Homo sapiens: one gene and its partners. The protein of the gene in region 4 interacts with the protein of the main gene of each other region in a biochemical or structural test. Each region holds a gene or a part of one and is shown on either strand. Other genes may lie near its edges.

Evidence for each region.
Region 1: the proteins of FLII (region 4) and GRIP1 form a complex in vitro, tested with the Homo sapiens proteins (one study listed by BioGRID).
Region 2: the proteins of FLII (region 4) and TRAIP form a complex in vitro, tested with the Homo sapiens proteins (one study listed by BioGRID).
Region 3: the proteins of FLII (region 4) and CARM1 form a complex in vitro, tested with the Homo sapiens proteins (one study listed by BioGRID).

What each region holds. Positions count from the first base shown.
Region 1 is NC_000012.12:66,669,051-66,676,082, forward strand, and holds part of GRIP1 (glutamate receptor-interacting protein 1), read right to left. Parts: intron 1-7,032. UniProt on the Homo sapiens protein: May play a role as a localized scaffold for the assembly of a multiprotein signaling complex and as mediator of the trafficking of its binding partners at specific subcellular location in neurons.
Region 2 is NC_000003.12:49,828,076-49,832,571, forward strand, and holds the end of TRAIP (E3 ubiquitin-protein ligase TRAIP), read right to left. Parts: intron 3,994-4,496; coding exon 3,841-3,993; intron 1,994-3,840; coding exon 1,945-1,993; intron 1,692-1,944; coding exon 1,542-1,691; intron 1,434-1,541; coding exon 1,383-1,433; intron 1,151-1,382; coding exon 1,028-1,150; 3' UTR 526-1,027; downstream 1-525. UniProt on the Homo sapiens protein: E3 ubiquitin ligase required to protect genome stability in response to replication stress.
Region 3 is NC_000019.10:10,909,534-10,916,565, reverse strand, and holds part of CARM1 (histone-arginine methyltransferase CARM1), read right to left. Parts: intron 4,383-7,032; coding exon 4,272-4,382; intron 2,690-4,271; coding exon 2,512-2,689; intron 160-2,511; coding exon 69-159; intron 1-68. UniProt on the Homo sapiens protein: Methylates (mono- and asymmetric dimethylation) the guanidino nitrogens of arginyl residues in several proteins involved in DNA packaging, transcription regulation, pre-mRNA splicing, and mRNA stability.
Region 4 is NC_000017.11:18,248,725-18,255,756, forward strand, and holds part of FLII (protein flightless-1 homolog), read right to left. Parts: intron 6,540-7,032; coding exon 6,459-6,539; intron 6,131-6,458; coding exon 6,045-6,130; intron 5,959-6,044; coding exon 5,797-5,958; intron 5,459-5,796; coding exon 5,355-5,458; intron 4,996-5,354; coding exon 4,820-4,995; intron 4,735-4,819; coding exon 4,577-4,734; intron 3,833-4,576; coding exon 3,748-3,832; intron 3,423-3,747; coding exon 3,275-3,422; intron 3,093-3,274; coding exon 2,956-3,092; intron 2,754-2,955; coding exon 2,541-2,753; intron 2,294-2,540; coding exon 2,114-2,293; intron 685-2,113; coding exon 602-684; intron 478-601; coding exon 403-477; intron 160-402; coding exon 76-159; intron 1-75. UniProt on the Homo sapiens protein: Is a regulator of actin polymerization, required for proper myofibril organization and regulation of the length of sarcomeric thin filaments. It also plays a role in the assembly of cardiomyocyte cell adhesion complexes.

The DNA of each region.
Region 1 (7,032 bases), on a different chromosome or scaffold from region 4:
CATTATCTGAAACACTCCAAGCCCAAAACAAATGTGTGGGATTGGTTAAGCCCGGAGATCTTTAAAAATTGACATCATTTGGCCAGGCATGGTGGCTCACACCTGTAATCCCAGCACTTTGGGAGGCCAAGGTGGGCAGATCACTTGGGGTCAGGAGTTTGAGACCAGCCGGGCCAAAATACAACAAATTAGCCAGGTGTGGTGATGGGTGCCTGTAATCCCAGCTACTCGGGAGGCTGAGGCAAGAGAATCACTTGAACCCAGGAGGCGGAGGCTGCAGTGAGCTGAGATCGTGCCACTGCACTGCAGCCTGGGTGACAGAGTGAGACTCTGTCTCAATAAATAAATAAATAAATAAATAAATATTAACATTATCCATTCGACAGATACTTATTGGGCATTTTCTTTGTACCAAATACTTTGTACTTGCCAGTGACATAATGGTAAGTAAAGCATGGATACTAATTTTCAAGGAATTCATAGTCTGATGGTTGTATACAGATAAACAAAGAATTATCATCAAATGTAGAAAGCATAATGAAAGCCATCTATACAGGTTTATGAATACACAGAGCAGGAGTACCTATTCAGTGGTGTGCTGGTAAATGTTTAACAAGTGGCTTTGTCGGGGCATGCCTTGATTTATAGCATCCATCAATGTCTCTGGTGTAAATACTCCCACTATGGCCAATTTCAGTCTACCAACTTGATGTCATTGAATGTGGAGTTGCTAAGAGATGTGTGGCACACCATTATAGAGTAGCTCTCCCACATAGATAGAGTAGACTTCAAGAGCACAGAACATAAAATGTAGTAATGATTAGAAAATGATGAATTGTTAGTATTCATTACCTCCGTTTTTAATATCATTTAATTGCAAATTTATATAATTTTAAATGATTGTGTTTACAAGCTAGTTCAAAAAATTCTTTAACATTTAACAATTGGCTCCATAGAAGATGACTTTAACCAATGAAGTCTACTCTTCATTGTGGGCTAGGGCAACAGACTTTCTGCACCATACAAATGAGGGTGAACTCCTTTGCATGAGTAGCTATGTCCATTAGCATTGAAAGAAGACAAGTAACAGAAGAGAAGAGGGAGCAATGAGAAGAGCTGAGATGCTCAGAACATTGCACCGCATACAACCAAAGCAGAAAACTTTATAACCCTGCCTTTCAACTATTTTCTCCATATAATAACCTTCCGCATAAGGGGAGAAGAAAGGGAGAGATCAGTTAGCCCTTAGGTCCCTAAATAGTAAGGACAAAAAATCACATGAAAATTACAATATTCATTTCCATCCCCATGGAACATTCCTTCCAGTCTATGCTGATGTGGACTGCCAAGGAGGGCAGACTTGAAGACTTAACAAAATGATCCACTGGAAATCCTACGTTAGCAGTGGCGCTCATAACTTCATACAGGACTGCAGGCTCAGATTTGCAGGGGTGTTCACACAGTTCTGTGGAATGAGAGCAACTCAGGAGTGGACTCAGCAAATGGTTGAGTCAACTGTCATTTTTAAACTATGTCTTCAAAACTCTCACCAAAATGTATACACACAAATGCGTTATAACCTGTATCAGGCCTCTTTTGATTGCAAATAACAGAAAGACCTGGCTCTAATGGGCTTAGGTGTTAAAGACATTTAATGGCTAACTTAACTGAAGAAGTCTAAGGGAGAGCTCAGAGCTCCCTTAAGGTAGTTCTTGAGCAGGGGCTGAAGTGATGACAGTCAGATATGGTGTCTCTTTCTTTTGGATCCACTGCCATTTTCAGACAGGCTCTGCCCTCAAAGTCACAGGAAGGCTATAGCAGTTTCATAGCCCTTATATCTGCTCAGCTTCTCCCTTCTAGCAGCTGAGTAAAATTCCTGGGCTTGTCTCTGGCTGAAACATATCTAGTAGCATCTCTATGAAGCTGCCAGTACGTTAGGTCCATGGCTCCCAAACTCAGCTAACACAGTAAAGTCACCTGGGGAATGTGTTAAAATGCCAAAGAACAGGCCACACTTCCAGGCAATTAAATCACAATCTCTGGGGTTGGATCCAGGCAACATTATTTTCTTAAGGTTACAAGGTAATTCCAATGGAGAGAAAAATTTAGAAACCCCTGAATTGGGTGCTCATAAAAATAGGAGATTTTAGACTCATCTTCTGATTTACTAAGAAAGTCAAGTTTGATTAATTTCCTTAATGTCCACCTCAAAGTCTTTCTTCCTATGCTTTCCTGTCTCTGTGACAAGAGTGTCCCTCTTGCTCACTCTAGCTGGCTGCCATCTGTCTCGTGGTCTCACACTCACACTGTCTTGCCTGGTTCTAGAGTTCATCCCTCTTCTAGTTTGCATCTTGAAATTTTACCTCCCTACTGGTTCTATCCTTTTAAAAAATGCTCAGATTTCTCCCATCCTATAATAGCCTTCCTTATCCCCCATGACCCCGCCCTCCACCCCCACAGGCTGCTGCCCATCTACAGCCTAACTTTCACCTTCAGACTTCTTAAAAGAGTGGTCTGCCCTTGTTGCCTTTAATGCAGAGAATCCTTATAATCTGGTTTGGACATCAATACCCTGTGAAAACTGTTCTCTCAAAGGTCAGCAATGACCCACTTACAAAACAGAAGGGCTGCTTCTCGCCTCTCCTTCTCTCATCTTTGCTTTGGTTTTTAGATATTACGGTATCCAAACGCTATTTCTCCCACTGTTTTTCTCTCTGCCACCTCTATTAGCTTAAGAAAGCCTTGGGGAAAATGTGTGGGACGTGTATCCTAAACACATTTCTCAGACAATATGTATCAGAAGACTTGAAAGTGAAGATACATGAAGGCAACAATTTAAAGCACAAAATAAATTCTTTAAAGACAATTCAGTATCATGTATTAGACTGAAAACTGGGAAACAAACTAAAGATATATTATCCACATAAGGAAATACTACAGAGACAGTAACAGTTTCCTATGACAAGTGTGTGCTAATGTGCACAAATGGGCAGAATATTAGGAAGAAGATGTAAGACAAAACATGTATTATACATATAATTTCAACTTATTAAAAAGCATAATAATTTGTAAATCAATTTGTTTTCCTCCATTGGTTTCCATTATTATGATGACAACATATCTTTAGTGATATTTAGTTTTACCTTTTCTCCTAATTCATCTGTTTTGAAAATGAATAGAAATTTCCTTAGTACAAATGTAACTTATTGTATTCTTCATATATTCAGCTATTTAATAATGTAGTTGGAATTATTAGTAAGAAGCTCTTTCTCACTTTCTAATACCCCGAGCTTTGCCTGAATTTAGGTGGTCATCATTGACTGAGACATCCAAGACCACTGCTTTTATTGCTTTTTGTAATGGCAAGGTCAAAGTTTCCTTGGTTTGAAGGGTGCAGTAACATCCTTTAAGGAGCTACATGTAATAAATATCTGGGTGCATTTTTTTTTTGGATATATGCGATACTGAAACAAATAATTATTTTAAAAATCTGCAAATAAGATTTTCTTCTGTATATTTAATAAAGCAGCAGTTACTAATTTTAAATTTAACATAATTCTCATGTATATGGGCAAAAAAGTGGTAAGAAACTAAAAGAGAGAAAAAGATGAGTTTCAAACACTGACGGCTTGCCTATCCCTAGAAACTATGTATTTTGCCTCCTCTCAAATAGTGGGAAGTTATCAAATTATATATTTTCCGCCAGAATAAAGTGAATTTACTAATATAAGAATTTCAAATAAATCAACTGTAGTAGAAAATTAAATCATTTTGTTATAGCTAACATGAGTATAAAACAGTTTTCACAAGTAATTTTTAATTTACAGATTAAGAAACTGAAATTTAGTGGGGGAAATTCAGTTTTTTTGTTTGTTTGTTTTTGCCACACAAGTAAAAATAGGAAAGCTAGGAAAGGTTGACATATCTTCTAATTTCTAAGTCTATTCTATTTCCCCTACCATAAGGAATGCTGAGAGATTAGTGTGGTGTTGTCTTGATTAATTTCTCTTTATTATTCTAGATAGGCAGGTCTATGGTTTCTATCCGTTTCTAGAAGAGAAAAAAAATGGCAAAAATGAAACACTGGGGTTCCTCCTGTCCTCCACTTGTGATCTTAGGAATGATTCTTAACTTCTCTGAACCTCTTCTTTTTCATCTGTATGGTGGGGATAATGACGATAATATTGCAAGATTTAAATGAGTTAGTACATGTAAAATGTTTAGAATAGTACCTGGCAGAAAGTAAGTGCTCAATAAATGTTAGCTATCCTTATTTCCATTCTTCCTCCTAAACATTTCCCAAAAGTATATAAGTTAATCGATTAGAATGCCTATCCTACATTGGCCCTCCTTTTCCCAGTAATGAACCAGATATTTCTTCCTAACCTGCTACAATCATATAAGAAGGGTGTAGACTCCTTCTTGTTTATATGGGGTCATACAAGGCATAGCCAAAATTTCCTCTGGAGGATGGGTACCTCCTGGAACGAGGTAAAGTATTTCTAGCATCCAATTCCCATTTGGAAGACAGGGGAGAAATAAATGCGCCATTATGATAATTCTAACTAGTTATATAAACGAAAAGCTTCAGTCCAGTGGAGAGTAAAGCGGTCCAAGCCACTGTTCAATGTAAACTCCCTCAAAGCATGGGCTAGAAGCACAGCAAGAAATCCATCACAATCTGGACCACGAGCAGCACTTGCGCGAGAACAAGACCTGCCTGGGACCCAGCTGCAGCATTCTCCTGTTCAAGTGGGGTCTCTCTATTTGCAAGAGAAATATGCCCCATGCCCTAGCAATAGATGAAACTCCAATAAAACAAGACAGACTTACTTTGTGAAATATCTATTAAGTGCATATTATTTTAAAAAGTTGATAGGCTAGAAAGATAAATACGTTAAATGCACTAGCTTTGATGGCATGAAATGAAGGGGTGGAGGCAAAGCAGAAAGGACATGGTTGCAGGTGAGATTTGGAAAGGGGTGGAAAGTTAACGAGGTGGAGGATACAGTTAAGTTGTTCCAGATGGCAGGATCTGACAGAGAAGGCCAGCGAGGGTTAGCAGAATGGATGAGGATGGGGAGACAGGAGAAATGAGGTCCAGCACAGAGAGAGAGAGCATTCTCAACCCAGATGATGATCAGTTCTGAATCATATCACAGAGTGGATGAGGAATCATTAGAGAAGACTGCTGAAGGAACCACAAGGCTAGACACAGACAGATGGGAAAGAGCAAAGTGACCAGAACAGAAAATCCAAGGCCACCAGCAAAGGAGCCATCAGGTTTGGAACACTGATACTGAACTCTGTGATGGATTCAGAATTCCTTGGATTAAAAGATTCTGCAGATGAGAAAAGATGGGAAATATTTTTCCTCTTCCATTAAGACAAAACATTTAAATGTGTTTCTTTAATTAAGATTACACTTAGGAAATGAGTTTCTAAATAGAAGAACTTTTAAACACAGGATGAGTGTCAGAGTTTAAAGGGATTTAGACGTCACCTGAGTAATCCATTAAAAGTTTATCAGACAAACTGTGAGATTGTTCTTGTCAGAGAGAATTGAGAATAAGATTACTGGTTGTCTGAGATGGTTGAGTTTCAGTTCTCTCTGGAAACAAGTCCTAGACGAATGTCTGACCTTCCCTTTCAAGCATAATGATTCCATGATTGGGGTAAGTGTAAGGAACAATGACTGAAAAAATGAGAGTGAGTGTGATCACAACCCAGCCTTTTAATCTTGCTCAGTGCCAGTGGAGAGAGCAATACCCATACATGCCCAGACAGCAGAAAAGGAGAAAAGATACTGAGGTTGGGAGGAGAAATCAGGAAGAAGAGAGGGAGAGAGAAAGAAAGTAGAATGCACAGCAGGGAGCAGTTCCCTGCCAGCCACAGATGTCTCACTTAGACACCCCATTGGGATGAAGGTCAACGGGGCTGCTTATAGTTTGTTAGTGGGAAAGGGACAGGGAGAGTTAATTCTATTTTAGGCCATATGTGTATTTGGGAAGAGAGAGAAAGTGAAGATAAGTAGAAAATAAAATGACACGTAGGCCAGCTATGATGAAAAATGTTGAAGTCTATACTAAAGTGAAGGCAAAGGTTTCCGACATGAGCTTTGAGCCAGTAGAGAAAAGACAGAGAGAGAGGGTGGGTGGCAGCAAAACAATGAAAGGTGCCCAGAGCCGTGCTCCCTGTGGAATGTCAGTAAATATTAATTGGCTGATGTTGGCATTGGTAGGCAGAGTGAAGCTTGTGAAAGAAAAATGCCATTGCCAGTGGAGCACGAAAGTTCAGATCTCGGAGCTCAAAATGGCAGCACCTGAGCAAGCAGCAGAGTCACATCCCATATCACCAGAGAAAGTGATTCTCTGCATATGAGGCCAAACTGTCTCAAGGAAAAGTAATCACACAATCATGACAAGAGAAAAAGAACAAAGTCTGTGGGAGCCATGAAAATATCTCCCCTTCTCTGAGAACATACTCCCTTCCCCTGAGGTATGGTAGCCCCTAGCTGAGAAACCAGGGCTGTCCCAGGTAAACAGCTGTGAAGGTAGGTGCCAAGAAGCCTAGATTTACCCACTCCAGAAAACCCTTTTGTCAGATGTCTCTGGAAACCTCACAAAATGTTATTTTGGGATTTGGCTCTAAGGTTGGGTAATTGGTAGACTCTCATTCTGGAGGAAGAAAAGAACGGCATTGCTTCTTTAGATTTCAATATTAGATGGGAAACGGAATGCTTTTGACGGTGCTTGGTGTTTTCATGAACCAAAGTTCCTCTCATAATGGCAGGCATGGGCCTTTTGGGTAAAGGTTATTTTCTTGCTCTTGTTCTACATTGGTAGGTACCTGATAAGGCAAAATGATTGAAACAGTGGCTTGAAACATTAATAAGAAAATGACTCAATTCCCAAGTCAGAGAAGTGCTAAGTTTACCTGAAATATATTCTACTATAATACTGTGGATCAGTGTCTATGTGGAGTGATCCAAGGACTTGTCTAGAAATACATGTTTTATACATCTTTTAAAAT
Region 2 (4,496 bases), on a different chromosome or scaffold from region 4:
GCTACTCAGGAGGCTGAGGTGGGAGGATCACCTGAGCCTGGGAGGTTGAGGCTGCAGTGAACTGTGATTGTGCCACTGCACTCCAGCCTGGGAGACAGAGGGAGACCCTGTTGCAAAAAGAAAAAAAAAAAAAAGAAAGAAAGAAAAAGAAAGAAAAGAAAGAAAGTGCCTTTGCAGCCAAAAGTCAAAAGCTAGCAATTTGGCTGGTAGCGTTTAAACGTGGGTAGGAACGGAAGGTAGTGGTCGCTGGTTATTTGCTGTGAGTACACTGTATAGATAGATTTCCATTTACTCGTTCACTTTCCTACTTATGGCCTTTAGGCTGTGCCCAGGTTAGAGACTGTGAGAAAAGCTGCAGTGATCTCATTCTTTCTAGAGTCTTCCTGTGCCCCATGAGAAGGCATATGCCTAGGGAAGGAACTGCTGGATCTGAGGCTTGGCGATGTTCCTGCTTTAGAAAGTCATGCCAAACAGTTTTCTAAAGTGTTGGTGCAAATTTACACTCTCAGAACCAGGAAGAAGAGATTGTTTTTTTTTTTTAATTTTATTTTACATGAAAATCTTCCATCCTCTCCATACATCCCATGCTATCCTCCATTCCCCACCCTGCTTGGCCCAGGCTATGCCTAGAAGCAAGTCAAAGGCAGGTAGAAGCTTGGGCTGAGGCTGCCTGAGATGCCTCAAGCACTCTGGTCCACAGAGACAGTCAACAAGTGACCGTGGTCTCCAGGCCCAGAAAGAGTCTGACCACATCTGATCATGGCTATAAACAGGAGCCTGGCAACAGGAGCAGGACCTGCTGACAGGATCAGTGGGCTGGTCATGTCAGCTCCCAGTCGTAGGAGTGGGGCAGGGTGAGGGCAGGAAGAGCAGTCTCTGGGTGCCACACTCACCCTCACCTGTTTGTCTGCCCTTACACCTCAGGCTGGTCCCGAAAGTGGGGCTCTGTCCACAAAACCCCTGCCTGGACAGTCCTTGACCTACAAGTTGCAGGCATGTGTCTGGCCATTGGTCAGACTCACTGTTCTCACGACCACAGGAAGGTGTCCAGCTTGGCCTGGAAGAGAGAAGGCACTGTCTTCACCCTCACCCTCTGCTTAACCTTGGTCTTGGGCTTAACAGGCAATGGGCGGATCATGACTGTGTCAGTCTGGAGGAGCTGTCAAGGAAGAGGCATGGAGAAAGGACTGCAATGCAGGGCGAGAAAGGACTGCAATGCAGGGCAAGAAAGGCTCAGAGCCGGGGGTGGGCGGCGCTGATACACAGAATGAGGCCCAGCACTGCACACCTGAGGCTGTTGGCACTGGCAGGCTGGGGGTATAGGTGAGGCATAGTATGGGCTCCACAGTTCAGCTCAGCTCAACATCACAGGAAAAGGATACAGGCTGGATGAATTTTGTCCGGCCACCGAGCCCATCGAAGCCTGTCCTTACCTAGGGTGGAAGGAAGAGATGAGTGGGCCAGGCTAATGGGCTGGGGGGCTGGCCACCCATTTCTACCCAAGAGGGCTGGCTCCTGCCACTGTGGGAAGCCACACTCACCACATCTTTGCTGCAAGAGGACTCTGACCTGGGCCTCTTGGGCTGTTTCTGGCCTAGGATGGCATTCCGGACAAAAATAGGGAAGGCACCAACCAGTTCCTCATCTGGCTCTCCTGCACAGCTCTGGCCACCCAGTGAGAGCTGGGACTCCTGCAGGGAAGACCCCAGGGCCAGACTTGATGAGCTGGATGTCAGCAAAGGAGGGAGGGTAGTGGTGGTGGAACAAGATCAGGATCTCTGATGCCTCACTAGGAGGCAGGAGGGATAATGAGTAGAATCCCAAGGGTGGCTCCGAAGTACCTCAGTCCTGGACCAGGAGTGACAAGGCTCTGGCAAGACCGTGCCCTCCCAAAAGTCCAGTCCTGCCAAAGGTTAGACTGTGCTTCTTCTAGAAAGCTCTTACCTTCCTGGGGCCTTTGCATATCTTCTTGGGGACATCCTGAATTGGGGAGCTACAAGAATGAGAGAGAAGGCAAGGGGTAGGTAAGCAAGACATGGGGGCAGGTGAACCAGGCTCAGCACACGCCCCTTGGGGAGTTACCATGTGGCACTGCTGCTGCCATGCCTGCATTCTGGGCAAGGCACCTCAGTGATCCCACCCCAAGTGCAGGTCTGTTAACAGCTGGACAGCCACAGCCAGTAGGGTGGCAGAGACAGGGATGACTGGGGATGACTGGACCATGTCCCAATCCTGTGGCTTCCACTCAAGGCCAAATTCCAACGCTCCTCAAGTCCTCGGGCACCTCACCATGTCCCAGGCTCTATATGGGGCTGAAGAGCCCAATCAACTCACCACCCACGGGAGGAAAGCCAGTCATGCCCTGATACGAGCAAAAGAAATTTAATGAGCTCAGGCCTAGTCCTGTCTTCCCAGAGAGGGGACACTACCTCCACGAGAGCCTCAGTAAGTTAGCCTTTCAGTAAAGTAGCCCACAAAATCCTCTCAGAACACAGGGCCAAGCCATCTCCCTAGAGAGTGTGTCTAAGAAGGGCCTGGGGCAGAATAGCGCATGGCCCCAGGCCCTGGTCTCCCAATCCCAGCCCCAGAGCCAGAAACTGTATTTCCATCCAATTCCTGGGGAACCCAGCAGCTGGATACCCTCTCCTGGCATTTTCCCTGGTGGGTGAGAAGATGGTGATCTAAGGCTGGCCCTGTGGCTTCTCAAGCCATAAGGACAAGAGTGGGATCAGGGCCTGATGACTGACTCCTCTGCTCCTGCCCTAACGGCCTGTGGTAAGGCTACATGACAACCAAGGCTCCAGGAAGGACGAGCTGAGTTAGGGACTCAGAACTTCACTACCTCCTTCACTACCTCCACAGGCCATGAAGGTGGTGGAAATGTCTCTGAAAGGCCTGGCAGCCTGAAGACCCCAGGTGTCCACCTTCAACCTTTACAGCGGAAGAAGGGCAATGGGAGGAAGCCAGAGTACACAGCAGACACTGACAGGATCCCTGAGGACTACAGCCCACGGGTCCTAGGTTTGTTTCTCATTGCTACCAGGCCTCGCCCTCTACAACAGGGGTGCCCATGCCCCCTGAGGTTTGGGAGGTAGGACAGCCCAGCTGGCTTGCCCTCTTGCTCCCTTCCACCTCCACTGTCTAGCATCTCAGTTTCTTTCTCTTTCTCTTCTTTCTCTCTGTACAAAGTCTTTGAAAAAGAGGAAACCTGCCCAGCCCTTGACCAGCCTCACCTGAACAGTACCTGTATGAATGAGTATAGTCCTTGTCTCCACAGTGAATTACACTTGGCAAAGCTGGCCAAGGAGACAGCCTCCCTTTTTCTGGTCCCACCGTACCCCAGAGCAGGTTCCACCTGCCCCACTGGAATTCCAGACAGCTTCTCATGCTTGCCCCTGTGGGTCACCCCCTTGGGTGGTAAGGCCTTGGGCTCTGTGGTTTGAGATGATCCTCCCTCAGGCATGAGCCTCAGAGGCAAACATAGAAGAGGAAGTTCAGAGTCCCTCGCTCAGGACTCTGGTGGGCAGGCCTTCAAGGTATTGGGAGCACCCTCTCCAGCCCAGACCCACCCCTTCTGGCATCACTGCATTCTCTCTAACTTGCATTCCAATACGTTTGCCTTGAAAGGTGATGGTGAGGAATAATGAGAAAAGAGAAGGGGTTTGCACAGATTGAGTGCTCAGGTGAGGGAACAAGAGGTAGCTGGAACCAAAGCCATGGCCAAGCCTAGGCAACCCTCACTGCCCCATCAGCCACTCAGAGCTAACAGCACAGGGCCTGCAGAGCTGTCTTAGCTATCCCCCTACCAGCCCATGGACAGTGCCAGCGACTATCACTCACTGTGACTTCTCTAGGCAAAGTTTTTCGTAGTAACCATGCTGGGAGCTGGAGGGCCGGGCTGGGGGAGTATCCACATCAAAGGTAGCATTGAGATCAATATCATCACGGAAGGATGGCCGGCGGAGCTTCAGATTCACCTCCACAGGGGCTGGGCTGAAGGCAGAGATGACCTGGTTACTTGGGGCCACAGTGGTAACCCAGGACAACAGCTCCTGAAGCATCAGAGATAACTCAGCTCCAGGGACCTGGAGCCCACTCCTGACTCAAGGCCACCCCTCAAGAGAGCCCTACTCTCGGCCAGGCACAGTGGCTCACGCCTGTAATCCCAGCACTTTGGGAGGCCAAGGCGGGTGGATCAAGCGGTCAAGAGATCAAGACCACCCGGGCTAACATGGTGAAACCCCATCCTACTAAAAATACAAAAATTAGCTGGGTGTGGTGGCTTGTGTCTGTAGTCCCAGCTACTCGGGAGGCTGAGGCAGGAGAATTGCTTGAACTCGGGAGGCAGAGCTTGCGGTGAGCCGAGATCGCGCCACTGCACTCCAGCCTGGGCGACAGAGCAAGACTCCGTCTCAGGAAAAAAAAAAAAAAAAGTTTAAATTTAATTTAATTTAAAAAGCACACAAAACTCCATGTATAGTGCAATTACATGATTT
Region 3 (7,032 bases), on a different chromosome or scaffold from region 4:
GGGGAGCTGGGGCTGTCCCTGAGAAGGCAGGCTGTGGGGCCCAGGCGGGACACCCAGGGCACACTCACCAGAAGTTGGCCTTGGTGAACTGCTCCATGTAGAGCTGTTCATCCGTGAAGGGTGCAAGGTGGACGTCACCAATGGTAGGAAACATGTTTCCTGGGAGTGGGGCAGGGAGGGGTGCTGGCGTCAGGTGACACATCCCACACTGCCTGGCAGAGCTTCCAAAGGACCCCAAGACCCCCAACCCTGGGTGCTCCCAGCCTGTCATCCATTCGTTCCTGCACTCCTGTGACAGTGGCACCGAGCGCCTATTCTGATCAGTGTTTCATCACCACCACGGGTACCTGACCTGCACCAGCTCACGAATTCCACCTGAGACTGGGAGGCTGGTGGCTCATCTTTATGTCCTATTACTAGACCTGGCAGGTGTGAGGGACCTGCCAAAGACTCACGGGGAAGCAGGCAGTGCCCGGGATGTGGCCAGGCGCTGCCTCTCAGGCCCTGCCGTCTGTGCATGTGTGCAGCCGGGAAAGCATAGCAAAGTTGCTCTGGACAGAGGGAGGGTGGTGGGCCCCGGGCTACCCCAACGCCGCTGGGGACCTCAGTTGAGGCCAAGAGCCAGGTGGGGGAAGCCAAATCCACACCACAGGGACTGCCTAGGTTCTGGCACAGGCACCCAGCCGGCAGGATGGGCCACTTGGCCTGCCTGGTCTGGGCACACAGACTGAGGGAAGGGCAGGGCCTCCCTCTGTGACTCAAGGGTAGACGCATGAGTCAGGGCCAGTGGCAGGGAGGATCAGGGCCCCGCAGCCCCGCCTGCCCCAAGGAGCACCTGGCCTCCAGATGTGGGCCCCCCAGCCTTGCAAGCTGGGGGAGGAGATCCTGAGGTATCAGTGGGACTCTGCCTCCTCCTTACGCCACCAGGCTGTACCCGAGGCGAGAGCTGCAGGGCTGCAGCTGCTGGAACGGGGAGGGAGATGCACATGCTGCGGCTTCTGCCCTGGGGGACCTGGGGGCACCATGGGAAGTGACCCAGCCTGGAAGGAACCTCTGGCTCCTGCTGACCAGAAGACATGTGACTGGGAGAGGGGAGGGCTGCCTTTAACCCCTGGAAGAGCTTCCTGAGCTGGACAGGAGTCCTCCTTGCACAGGCCTGGCCTCCCCCCTCCCTGCAAGCTGGCTGCTGGGACGTCGGGGGCACATGCAGCTGCCCACAGAGCCTGACTGCCATCTGGCTTCATGTCCCATCGGGAGGGGCCCTCTCTGCTGGGGCTGTCCCCACCCCCATCCCCACCATCAGGGCAGAAGGGGAGGAGAGTGGGGCCCACAGCCCCTGGAGCAGCCTTGCTTCCCATACTCACACCCAAGACATGAGACACAGCTGTGGGACGCCACCTCCCACCTCCAGGAGCACAGCCAGCCAGGACCCTAGGGCCTGGATCCAGGGCGGGCCAGAGATGAGAGTGGAAGCTTCCCCCCTGCCCCTGCCTGCACAAGCCCCACCAGCCTGCTGCTGCCCACGCTCCATCCCATGGCTGCTACCCTGGCTGGGGACCTGTACCCTGCCACACGCACACACAGCTGCTTGCCTGTACAGAAATGCTCAGACGCTCACATACCTAGCATGAGAAGAGCCACAGGCACATGCCTCAGGCGTCAGGGCTGCACAGACCCCAAGACAGATGGGCAAATAGAAACAGTCACCCAGGCCAGGCACAGTGGCTCATGCCTATAATCCCAACACTTTGGGAGGCTGAGGCGGGTAGATCACCTGAGGTCAGGAGTTCGTGACCAGCCTGACCAACACGGTGAAACCCCATCTCTACTAAAAATACAAAACTTAGCTGGGCGTGGTGGTGCACACCTGTAATCCCAGCTACTCAGGAGGCTGAAGCACAAAAATTGCTTGAACTGGGGAGGTGCAGGTTGCAGTGAGCCGAGATCGCACCACTGCACTCCAGCCTTGGCAACAAGAGTGAAACTCTGTCTCAAAAAAAGAAACAGTCACCCAGTGACCAGAGGCCATACCCAGAGGCACGGATGGGAAGTGACAGATGGGCTTGCCAGACAGCTACCTCACCTCCTCACACACGTACACTCGCACCCACACCCCTGCATTTGCACACATGCTCGCCCACCCCACCTCCTGGACTGTGAGGAGAGCAGGGCTTGTTGGGGAACTGCTGACCACAGAACCTGTCCCAATCCCCACTCCCAGCCAGAGGCTGTCCCGCAGGAGCAGGACATGGGACGGCAGAGGTGCCAGGAGATCCTGTGTACCCTGTCTGGGCGAGTGGGCAGCTGGGTGTCTGGCCGTGTTTGGGGCCCAGGGCTCCAAAAGCCACAGCTGGCTGGAGTGGGGTTGGGGTGGGAGCGGGGGAAAAGCCCAGGCTTCCCTACACCCCGGGCCACCGACAGTAAGCAGGGAGCTGAAGCACTGATGGCCTGGCTCAGCGGCAGCCAGGGCCTCCACCGAGGGGCCTGGCCTGTGTACCCCCCAGTGCTCACCGCTGGGCTTCAGGTACTTCTTGGCGTGGAGGTAGCTCTCCAGCATGCGCTCGTTGAAGAGCATGTAGCCCATGGGCTCCGAGATGATGATGTCCACCTGCTCGGGGAGTGACACCTCCTCCACCTTGCCCGGGATGACCACGATGCGGTCCGTCAGGTTGTTACTCTTCACCAAGACCTGCAGGCGGGCAGGGCCATGTGGGCTTCCCTGCGTCTTCCTGCCATGGGGCCCTCCCTAGACCTGCTCTCAAGGGACAGCCTCCATCCACACATGGGCATTGGGTGCCCCTCTGCCTGCTTCGCTGGCGCCCCAACCATGGCTGCGATTGGCCATAGCCTGTTAAGAGCTCACTGTGGGCCGGGCACGGTGCCTCATGCCTGTAATCCCAGCACTTTGGGAGGCCGAGGCAGGCGGACTGCTTGACCTCATAAGTTGGGAGACTAGCCTGACCAACATGGAGAAACCCTGTCTCTACTAAAAATACCAAAAAAAAAAAACTATTTTTTTTTTCTTTGAGACAGATTCTCACTCTGTTGCCCAGGCTGGAGGTGGTAGTGGCGCCATCTCGGCTCACTGCAACCTCTGCCTCCCGGGTTCTAGCGATTCTCCCACCTCAGCCTCCCGAGTAGCTGGGACTACAGGCACCCACCACCACGCCTGGCTAATGGGGTTTTGCCACGTTGGTCAGGCTGGTCTCGAACTCTTGACCTCAGGTGATCCGCCCACCTAAGCCTCCCAAAGTGCTGGGATTACAGGTGTGAGCCACCATGCCTGGCCTAAAAATACAAAAATTAGCCAGTTGCAGTGGTGGATCCCAGCTATTCAGGAGCCTGAGACAGGAGAATCACTTGAACCCGGGAGGTGGAGGTTGCAATGAGCCAGGATCGCACCACTGCACTCAAGCCTGAGCAACAGAGTGAGACCCCCCCCAAAAAAAAAGAGAGTTCACTGTGACCCCGGCCCTGCCTCAGGGCCGTCCCCTGCTGCGGCCTCCTAGGTCCCCCACCCTGCGTCGACAACTGCTGGTGGCTGCAAAGAGGGGGACGAGCAGACATCACAACAGCCACCAAAGCTAAAGCTGGATGCACCCCCAACCCAGCGATTCCAGGGCTAGGGTGTGTCCTACAGACACAACCGCATGTGGGAGAGGGGCTCAGGACAGCAGCGTTGGCCACGTGAAGACCTGGAAGGAGTCTGAGTGTCGCTGCGGACACAATGCAGCTAAAGCAACAGCGGCACGGCTGGGCACAGGGGTGCTCTGCGGCGGCAAGACAGAACAAAGATGGCCCCTCCACGACCCCGGCGACCCCAGATCCATGGGAGAGGCAGAGCAGGGAATGGAGGGTGCAGCCTCCACTGGTGCGAGAGGACGCTCACGGAATAGCTCTGCTCAGACTTTGTGGCCGTAGCTCCTCTCTCATGATGGGGCTGGGGGTGGGAGCTGGGGTGGGGAAGGAGAGCACGCTGTCTGCTCTTTTTTAGCTTTTATGTTTTGAACTTTGTGAATGAAGGTTTCAGTGCAAAAAAAAAAAAAAGAAAACAGGGAAATGACATGTGGCCCTGACTACCGGCCATGAGAGAAAATCATCTCAGGCCCTGAAGCCCCTCCCTGAAATGACTGTCTTGGGGACAATAAAGAGACCAAAGCACAGAAGTAATGTCCCCAGGCCCCTGGGGGTTCCCAAGCTTCTCTAGGCTGGGGCCGGCATGGCACTCATGGGCGAGGACGAGGCTGGGTGGGCACCAGCGGGCCACTGACCTCAGCGTGCTGGGCCATGGTGCTGGCCTCCACCGCGTAGATTTTCCGTGCTCCAGCTTGGGCGGCAAAAAACGACAGGATCCCAGAGCCACAGCCAACATCAAGAACGATCTGAGGGAGGAGTGGGAGGTGAGAGCGAGACATAGGAGGCGACGGTGATGGGGAGGTGACAGTGATCATAAGGGATGTGCACATCATGAGGCGTCTGTCTTCACTCTCAATGTTTGCCCTTTATGGGCTCTTGGTCAAAATGAAGCGAGAACTCAAGATGAGCCATGGGCCAGTCCTCCGGGAGGAGAAGCCCTGGGGAAGCTCCCGCTCGGCCCCAACCCTGTGGCCTGCAGGCCTCCGGATCGTCTGGGGTGAGTGGCACGGGCCTCCCCTGGAAGCTCACTGGCAGTTGAAAAGCATTTTTCCGGGGCCTCCGCAGTTCTAGCATGGAGGAAAGGGGCCCGAGTTGTTGGTGGCAGTGTCTCCCAGCTCCATGCTGACTCATGCCTGGAGAAGCAGCCCGTCTTGGCTGGGGCAGGTGAGCCGCCCAAGCCCTGGGGCCGGCTGGGCTCCCCGCAGGGCTACTGGCCCGTGGTGGTCACTCATGGCAGAGTCCAGGCCAGGGTCTGGGAGAACACACCACCTGTTCTGGATTTGTGGGATTGCTTCCACACGAGCAGACCAAGGACAGACATTCCTGGTGGTGACAGGCATGAGCTTTTGAAGGACAAATGCTCTGGGCATGGTGAGTGCCTGCAGGGGAAGCTGGGGTCAGGTGGGAAGGCCTCAGGGTACTGATCAGAGCTCCAGATGAACCAGGAAATGGATCTCCATCCTTGGGGAGCAGGAAGGGACTTCACCAACGGAGGACGTCCTTCCCAGACCTCAGTGGCCAGGAGGAGGCTCGGGATGGCCCTGCCAGGGCAGACACTCTTGTGTCAAGACAACTCCTCCCCAGGGCCCAAGGCCTACCATCCTCTGGGACGGTAAGCGATGCTAGGGGGGCGTGACCCAGGCGCTGGATGAGGCAGATCCATGCAGATCCACGTGGAGAGATCCCCAAAATACTTGGAGGAAAAAAACAGGCTCCCATTTGATTCAAAAGAGAAAACAGGCCAGGTGCGGCGGCTCACACCTGTAATCTCAGCACTTTGGGAGGCTGAGGCGGATGAACTGCTTGAGGCCAGAAGTTTGAGACCAGCCTGGGCAACATGGCAGAACCCCATCTCTACTAAAAATACAAAAATTAGCCGGGCATGGTGGCACATGACTGTAATCCCAGCTACTTGGCCGGCTGAGGCACAAAAATCGCTTGAACCCAGGAGGCAGAGGCTGCAGTGAGCTGAGATTGTGCCACTGCATTCCAGCCTGGGTGACAGAGTGAGAATCTGTCTCAAAAAACCCCCCAAAAACAGAAAGAGAAAACAAAAATTCTGAGTAAGCCGGGTGCAGTGGCTCATGCCTGTAATCCAAGCACTTTGGGAGGCTGAGGTGGGTGGATCATGAGGTCAAGAGATCTAGACCATCCTGGCCAACATGGTGAAACCCTGTCTCTACCAAAAATACAAAAATCTGCTGGGCTTGGTGGTGTGCGCCTGTAGTCCCAGCTACTCAGGAGGCTGAGGCAGGAGAATTGCTTGAACCCGGGAGGCGGAGGTTGCAGTGAGCCGAGATTGTGTCACTGCACTCCAGCCTGGTAACAAAGCAAGACTCCATCTCATAAAAAAAAAAGTAAAAATAAAAAAATAAAAAAGGTAGACACCAAAAACTCTGGCAAATGGGATGAGAAGGGAATACATTATACATTTCTACTTTTTTTTTTTAAGACGGAGTCTTGCTCTCTTGCCCAGGCTGGAGTGCAGTGGCACAATCTCGGCTCACTGCAACCTCCGCCTCCCAGGTTCAAGTGATTCTCCTGCCTCAGCCTCCTGAGTAGCTGGGACTACAGGTGCCTGCCACCACGCCCAGCTAATTTTTGTATTTTATTTTAGTAGAAATGGGCTTTTGCCATGTTGGCCAGGGTGGTCTCGAACTGCTAACCTCAAGTGATCCACCTGCCTCAGCCTCCCAAAGTGCTGGGATTACAGGTGTGAGCCACTGTGCCTGGCCGATTTCTACTTTTGAATACAGACGTTCTGCTCTGTTCTCTCTCTCTTTAATCATGAGTGCACATTATTTGGTGATATCAAAAAGCTTATTTATTTTGTTTTTGAGGCAGGGTCTCGCACTTTGGCTCAGCCTGGAGAGCAGTACCCCAATCACAGCTCACCGCAGTTTCAACTTCCTGGGCTCAAATGATCCCCCTGCCTTGGCCTCCCAAAGTGCTGGGATTACAGACAGGTGTGAGCTACTCTGCCCAGCTCAATAAAATAATTGTAAAATATACGCTGATGTCTGTATGGGGAAAAATCTTGAAGAAGAGACCTCATACTGAGGGGTAGCGGCTATCTTGGAGGGAACTGATAGAGGCCTCTCAAGCCTATAATGTACATGCTGTGTTGAGTTTATATATCAAATGCATTTGTTTTTCTTGCTTTTTGTTTTTTTTGTTTGTTTGTTTGTTTTTTGAGATGGAGTCTCACTCTGTTGCCCAGGCTGCAGTGCAGTGGCGCGATCTCAGCTCACTGCAAGCTCTGCCTCCTGCGTTCATGCCATTCACCTGCCTCAGCCTCCTGAGTAGCTGGGACTACAGGCGCCCACCACCACGCCCAACTAATTTTTTTGTATTTTTTAGTAGAGACGGGGTTTCATCGTGTTAGCCAGGATGGTC
Region 4 (7,032 bases):
AGAGCAGGATGCAAAGTCATCAGCGAGGCTCACACCCCTTTCCTTCACACAAAAGACCCCACGGTGTCCTTGTACCTGGCCTTGGTGGTGCTGCTCAGTGTGGCCTGGGCCCCCCGCCATACGTAGATGTCTAGCCCTCGGTCCAGCAGGAAAACAAACCTGGACAAGAAGGGGCAGGAAGGAGCTGTGATGGTGCATGGGGCAATGGTCACCCCATGCTCCTGACCCCACCAAAAAAAATCCCTCACTATGGGGTTTCTGGGTAAGCCCCAGGGACCCCCCGCCAAGCTCGTGGGCAGGAATTGCTAGAGGGCCTCCTCTTCTAAGAGGCCCACACCTGCCCCCACTGGTGGGGAGGAGGCTGAGGATGAAGCACCCCCACCTCACATTGTTGGGGCTCACCTTGGGTCCAGAGAGGTCCCCTTGAGGGGCACAGGCTCCAACTTGATGTTCTTTTTCCCATACACACGATACATCCTGGGCGCAGGGCAAGAGTGGCTCAGTGTAGGCACCAAGGGCCTAACTTAGCCCCAACACCCTCCCCTCCACCCCTTGCCAGCAGACTCCAGGTCCATACCCCCCACTGCCCACACACCCTCACCTGGTGACATAGTGTGTGTCTTCCACAGTGTAGAAGCCACTGGCTGTTCCACCCTCAATGTAGGAGATGTCGTTGTCAAACACCTGTGTGTGTGAGGGTGTGGTTCTTCATCACTGAGCTGCCCCCTCCCCCACCAACCACTGCCCCTCAGGTGGGGGTACAGAGTTGCATACAGGTGAATTGAGTGCTACAAATCTATGATGCCTGTAATCCCAGCACTTCAGGAGTCTGAGGTGGGTGGATCACCTGAGGTCAGGAGTTGGAGACCAGCCTGACCAACATGGAGAAACCCTGTCTCTACTAAAAATACATAAATTAGCCAGGCGTGGTGGTGCATGCCTGTAATCCCAGCTACTCGGGAGGCTGAGGCAGGAGAATTGTTTGAACCTGGGAGGCGGAGGTTGCAGTGAGCTGAGATTGTGCCATTGTACTCCAGCCTGGGCAACAACAGCAAAACTCTGTCTTAAAACAAACAAACAAACAAACAAACAACAACAAAAAAAACAGATCTGGCTGGGCACGGTGGCTCATGCCTGTAATCTTAGTACTTTGGGAGGCCAAGGCGGGTGGATCACCTAAGGTCAGGAGTTCGAGACCAGCCTGGCCAACATGGCAAAACCCCATCACTACTAAAAAAATACAAAAATTAGCTAGGCGTGGTAGCACATGCCTGTAATCCCAGCTACTTGGGAGGCTGAGGCAGGAGAATCGCTTGAACCCTGGGGGCGGAGGTTGCAGTGAGCCAAGATTGTGCCACTGCACTCCAGCCTGGGCAACAAAGCGAGAGTCTGTCTAAAATAAAACATACACATCTGTGTCTATAAACATACACACGTCGGGGTGTTGGGATGTATGAAAAATATGGACACGTTCACCCACGTTTGTAAAGATGCCAGCAGCATGTTTAGATGCACGCATATCAGGGTACACAAGCAAGTGGGTTCATGGAAGAGTGGAAACCTGGGTGAATGTGGGTAAAAAAAACTCGGGGCGGGTGGGGTGTGTGCATAAACTCCACGTGTGTGTACATGCGAACATATGTCTAGGTGTAACCAGCTGGCGGCTAACACTGCTCAGTAATTTATTCAAGACTGGACTCTGGTCCCGCCCTTGGCCCCACCTCCTTGGCATCCAGGTGTGTCCTTGCCTCCTAATAACAGGTTTTGGCCCTGCCTTCTCACTGCTCTTGGCAACACCCCTTCCACCCTACTCTCAGCTCCCCTGTGTCAGCCCACTGGTCTAGCTCCCATGCCCAGCCTGTACCCTTATCCTTGCCCGGCTGAATTCTGCCCCGCGTTCCAGAACTCTCCTTTGCTGACCCAGGCTTTGGCCACCTTAGACCTCACCCTGCGGTCTGCCTTAGGTCCCGCACAGTATCGTTGATCCACCCCCTTTAACCCCAGCTCCCTGCCTGCCCACCTGTTCTGCCTACCTGCCTTGGGCCCACTGCCCCTGCACCAGAGTTCCCTGGGAACCCCACTCTGCCCACCCCCAATTTTAACGGGCTGGCACCTGCAGGAACTCCTCGCTCTCATCGCCCATCTCCTCCCGGACAGTGCGGCACTCAGCACCCAGGTAGTTGCGCAAGTTGACAGCGTGGATGGCAGAGCAAGCTTTCTTGTCGAGTGTGGCCTCCCCGCCAATCCAGTAGTAGATCTCCCAGTTGAGGGAGCCGCTGTCATCCAGAAAGGTCTGGAAGCCAAGGCACCGGCCACATCAGCTTTCATCCTGGTCTTCCGGCCACCCCGGAGACGCCACTCTGAACAGCACAGGCTTCCCAGCCCCAGGGGCTTTGTACTGCCCCTGTGCCTGGACCACCTCCTGCAGCCTGCCCACCTCCCACCTGGCCTCCCTGAACAAAACTCTGGAGTTGGGGACTGAGCCATCTTAGAGGAAGGTACTGGGCCACATGGCCCCTAACAGCATGCCCAGCCCTCACCTTGAGCACAATGTAGCAGTCAGCCTCGTAGAACTTGCCGTGGAAGGCTTCCTCCACCAGCACAGGCACGAAGTTCTCTATCTGCCAGATGGTCAGTCCGGGCAGCTGGCCCACGTCCTCCGTGAAGAACTCGGAGTAGTCAAGGCGGGGCTTCTCCAGGCCCTGGTCCCAACGCCGCACCTTCCCGCTGGGGGCCCGGGCATCTGCGCTCTCCTGGGGGCAGAGTCACAGAGCACGGCTTGACTCTGTGAAGCCACTCAGGCCAGTCTTTACTTGCTACCCACACCTCAGGGCCTTTGCACAGCTGTTCTTTCTGCCCAGCACCCCCCGTCCCTCTTGGCCAGGGTCAAGGCCAGGGTCGGCCTTCAGCAGAAGCTAAGGCTCCCTGCCTTGTCCCAACCCTGGCCTGGCTCACCTCCTGCTTTTTGTTCTTCTCCTGGGCAACATCTGACATGCCCTTCAGCACCTGCTTGGCCTGGTCATCCTGGGCTGAATCCTTGCGCCTCCGCAGTCGCATCTTGCGAGCCATAGGGTCCTTGGGCCCACTCCCTGCTTAGGGGAGGGGCAAACAGCTGAGCCCTCACTGGGCCTGCTGCCCCCTTGGGCATGCGACCAACCAGGGGCCAACTCCACCCACCAGGGTCCAGAAAGCTGTATGCCACCCAATTTACAGATGTGTCATTTGAGGCCTGGAGAGGAGCCCCCGTTCCCAGGCCAGACCTTTCCCCACTCACCAGCTGCAGCTGCAGCCACGGTAGCAGGAGAGGCACCCGCTAGCCGCAGCTGGTTCTGCAGCGAGAAGTCGATGTTGTACCACTCAGCGGCACGGTCTGCGGGCTTGGGCGGCATGACCAGGTTGGGGTTCTCCCGCACATCCAGGACCTGCCCCATAGGGTGAGCAGAGCCGGCACTGAGCCTGGGTCCTACCTCCCAGACACACCAATCCAGTTTCTTGCTCTTGTCTGCAGCCGCCAGGGCTGAGAGGTCAGGGAACTGGGTTCTCCTCCCACCCACCTCTGGGGCTGGCTGGGGGCTTAAATGAGACTGTGGAATGTACTCTGGATGCAGGGAGGTGGGGCCCACCTTCTCCCCACGGGCACCCTGGCACTGGCCACCTCCCTCAGGAGGCCTCTGCTGGGTCCCCCTTGCTCCAGGGCACACCCCTTGCTTGTCTCTCTTGAGCCCTCTCAAACCCAGCATGCCTGACCTCGATCTCCGTCAGGAAATGGATGGCTTCTGGGAGGGTCACCAGGTGGTTCTTGTTCAGGACAAGTTTCCTCAGCTTTGGGCACCTGTGAAGACAGGGCCAGCCAGGGCCTCAGGCAGGTGACAGACAAGGGGAAGTGGGCAAGAAAACCCCTAGTCCTGGGGAGGGGAGGCAGGTAGGGTCAGAGGAACTGGCGGGGGTCTCCATTCTCTGCCTGAAGGACTTCTCAGAGCCAAGAGACCATGTTACGGGCACTGTGATCTCCAGAAGGGGAGAGAAGCAACACTGCGTTCCCACGTCATGTGGCCTTGTCCCTAACAGTGCCCCCCGAAGGGTGCTCTCAGGGGCTCAAGTTGGGAATGGCTGGCATGGGACTGTGGTCTTCATCCACAAAGGTGAGTTAACTGGGCCGGGCGTGGTGGCTCACACCTGTAATCCCAGCACTTTGGGAGGCTGATCATTTGAGGACAGGCATTCAAGACCAGCCTGGCCAACATGGTGAGACCCCATCTCTACTAAAAATACAAAAAGAGCCGGGCGTGGTAGCGCACGCCTATAATCCCAGCTACTCAGGAGGCTGAGGCAGGAGATTCGCTTGAACCTGGGAGACAGAGGCTGCAGTCAGCCGAGATTGCACCACTACATTCCAGCCCAGGCGACAGAGCGAGACTCTGTCTCAAAAACAAAAAAGAAAAGAAAAGAAAAGAAAAGGTGAATTAACCCATCTTCATTTTGTCTGACTTGCACAGACCACAAGGTGGGCTCTGACTACGATCCCGGGGTTCTCTGTGCTGCAAGTGCCTCTGCTAGCCCCAGCCCTGCCCAGCACCTGCAGAGACTTTCAGGGACCAGCTCCAGGTTGTTGTTGGCAGCCATGAACTCTTCCAGGTTGGTGAGCTTGCCAATGCCTGAGGGCAGCCCGTCAAAGTCCAGCTTGTTGGAATTCAGGTACAGCTTCTTCAGCTTGCTCAGCTTGCAAATGGCTGACTGGAGGGGGAACGGGCAGGGGTGGGAGGTCAGGGCCAGGCTCACGGCCTTCCTCCCATCCCCCTACTGAGGGCCTCAGACGCACGGGCAGTGAGGTGAGCTGATTTCGGGACAGGTTCAGAGTTTCCACGTGCACCCACTGGTCTATGCACAGGGACAGCTCCGTGATCTGGTTGCTGCTGAGGTTGAGGCGGCGCAGGCTGGGGAGGGTGTACAGACACTCGGGCACCCGTGTCAGGTCATTGCAGGACAGATCCACGTCTGGGGTGCAGGGTGGGGTGCATCAGCTGGGGCCCATACACCAGGTGCCAGGGCAGCCAGCCCTAGTGTGAACCCCAGCTCTGCCACCTCTGAGCTGTGTGGCTTAGGCAAGTGACAACTGCTGTGCGCCCAAGTTTCTCCATTTGGACAAACTCCCTCACATGGGGGTTGCGGGGGAGTTTTCTAGGCATAAAGTCAGTGTTAAGGCATCATCATAATCGCAAAAGTCACTGTAACATAACTCCAGCCTTTTCCCTCTGGGTATTGGTCCGAAGAGCAGGGTTCAACCCCTTCCACCCAAGGAAGCAAGAGGGCCCAGAGGGGGCCCGAGCTCAGAGGGGCTCCTGGGGCTGCCTGACCTGCGAGGTTGCTCAGACCCTCCAGGCTGGTGGGCAGGTTGCTCTGGGTGCGCTGGGTGCTCCGCAGGTGCAGGGTCTGCAGGGCCGTCATCGCTGGGAGCTGCCTGCCAGGGTGACGTGAGTGGTCAGGGCCAGGGCCCACCTAGGGAGTGTTAAGGGTGGGGCTTGGCAGGGCAGGACCAAAAGCACAGGGCCCAGAGGGTAGGTGTGAGGTCACATCTGGTTGAAGGGACAAGCCCAAGGGTGGTTGCGGGGTGTGTAAGCGGGAAGACAGGACTGAGAGGTGGACATGATACTTAGGAGGTTGTACACTGAGGGGTGCTGCCTGCACGGAGGGATGGCTGGGCCTAAGGGAGAAGGGTTAGGGCCCTGGGAAGTGAAGGGGCCCGGCCAGACTCCTCAGGGTGGCTTCTGCAGGAGTGCGGTCCGAGGGGGCGCCCACCGGAGCTGTGCATGCAGCAGGGGGTTTCCATTGAGCACGAGCGTCTGCAGGTGCACCAGGCGGCGCATCTGCGGGGGCAGGCTCTCCAGGCGGTTCTCGCTGAGGTCCAGGTATAGTAGGTCAGTGAGGTTGATGAAGAGCTGGTTGGGGATGGTGTCGATGCTACGGGTGGGGAGCAGGAGCCACCTGAGTCAGCACCAGCCACCCCACAGGGCCCACCTGCCCCCTGCCCCCCACTGGCCTGGCACCTGTTGTGGCTGAGGTTCAGCACCAGCATGTTCTTGGCGTTCTCCAGCTCCCGCGGGCACTCTGTCAGCTGGTTGTGGCTCAAGTCCTGGGTAGAAGGGGCAAGACCCAGGTCAGGGGAGTCTCCTCCCCACCAGGCGTCTGCCAAGCTTGGGGATCAGGCAGGGCACTGAGTTGGGTGTGGGGGTAGATGAGGGGGCTTCAGGGCCAAAGGGAGACAGCCAGGGACTTGGGAGGAAGAGTGCCTGTGTTAGGGATCTGACTCCAAAAGTGACCTCAGGCAAGGTATTATCCACTCCAAGACTCAGTTTTCCCATCTGCAAAATGGGATAACAATGGCCCCAGGGACTTTTATAGTGAGTGGGGATTGAATGGTCCGGCTAGCACAGGGGCCAGGTGAGTGGGTAGCCACTGACCAGGACTGAGAGATCATCTAGCTTGAAGATGTCATCGGGGACTCCGGAATTCTTCAGACTGTTGGCTCGGGCCACGATGGCCTGGGAATAAACCATAAGAGTCTATAATTCCTGGCTTCCACTCTCAGGAAGGAACAGAGTCTAGAGAGGGACACCTCCTCAGGCAGCTCACCAGAGGCCAGGCCTGAGGACTCTCTCACCTCTGGCCTTTGATCAAATAGCTCCCTCTCCTGGAGCGCTCTTCCTAGCCTCCCAGTGAGCTCCTATTCATGCCTCAAAGCCCAGCTCAAATGTGCCCCGGAGCCCCAGCACAGGGCCCTCAGGGAACCTTTTCTGTTCAAACCATTTCTCTTCTTCTTAATTCCAGAAGGTGAGATAGGGGTAAGGTCTGAGTCAGGGTTTTCAGAACAGAGGGAGAGAAGTGGACCACAGAGAAATCAGAATCTGGATGGAGAGGAAGTCTGCTTTCTCTCCCTAACTTAAGACTGACACCTCCTCATACCTTACAGACATGCAGAAAGCTTGAGCATGAGGGAACAGGGCCAGAGAATGGTGTCGTGACTCCAAGTGACAA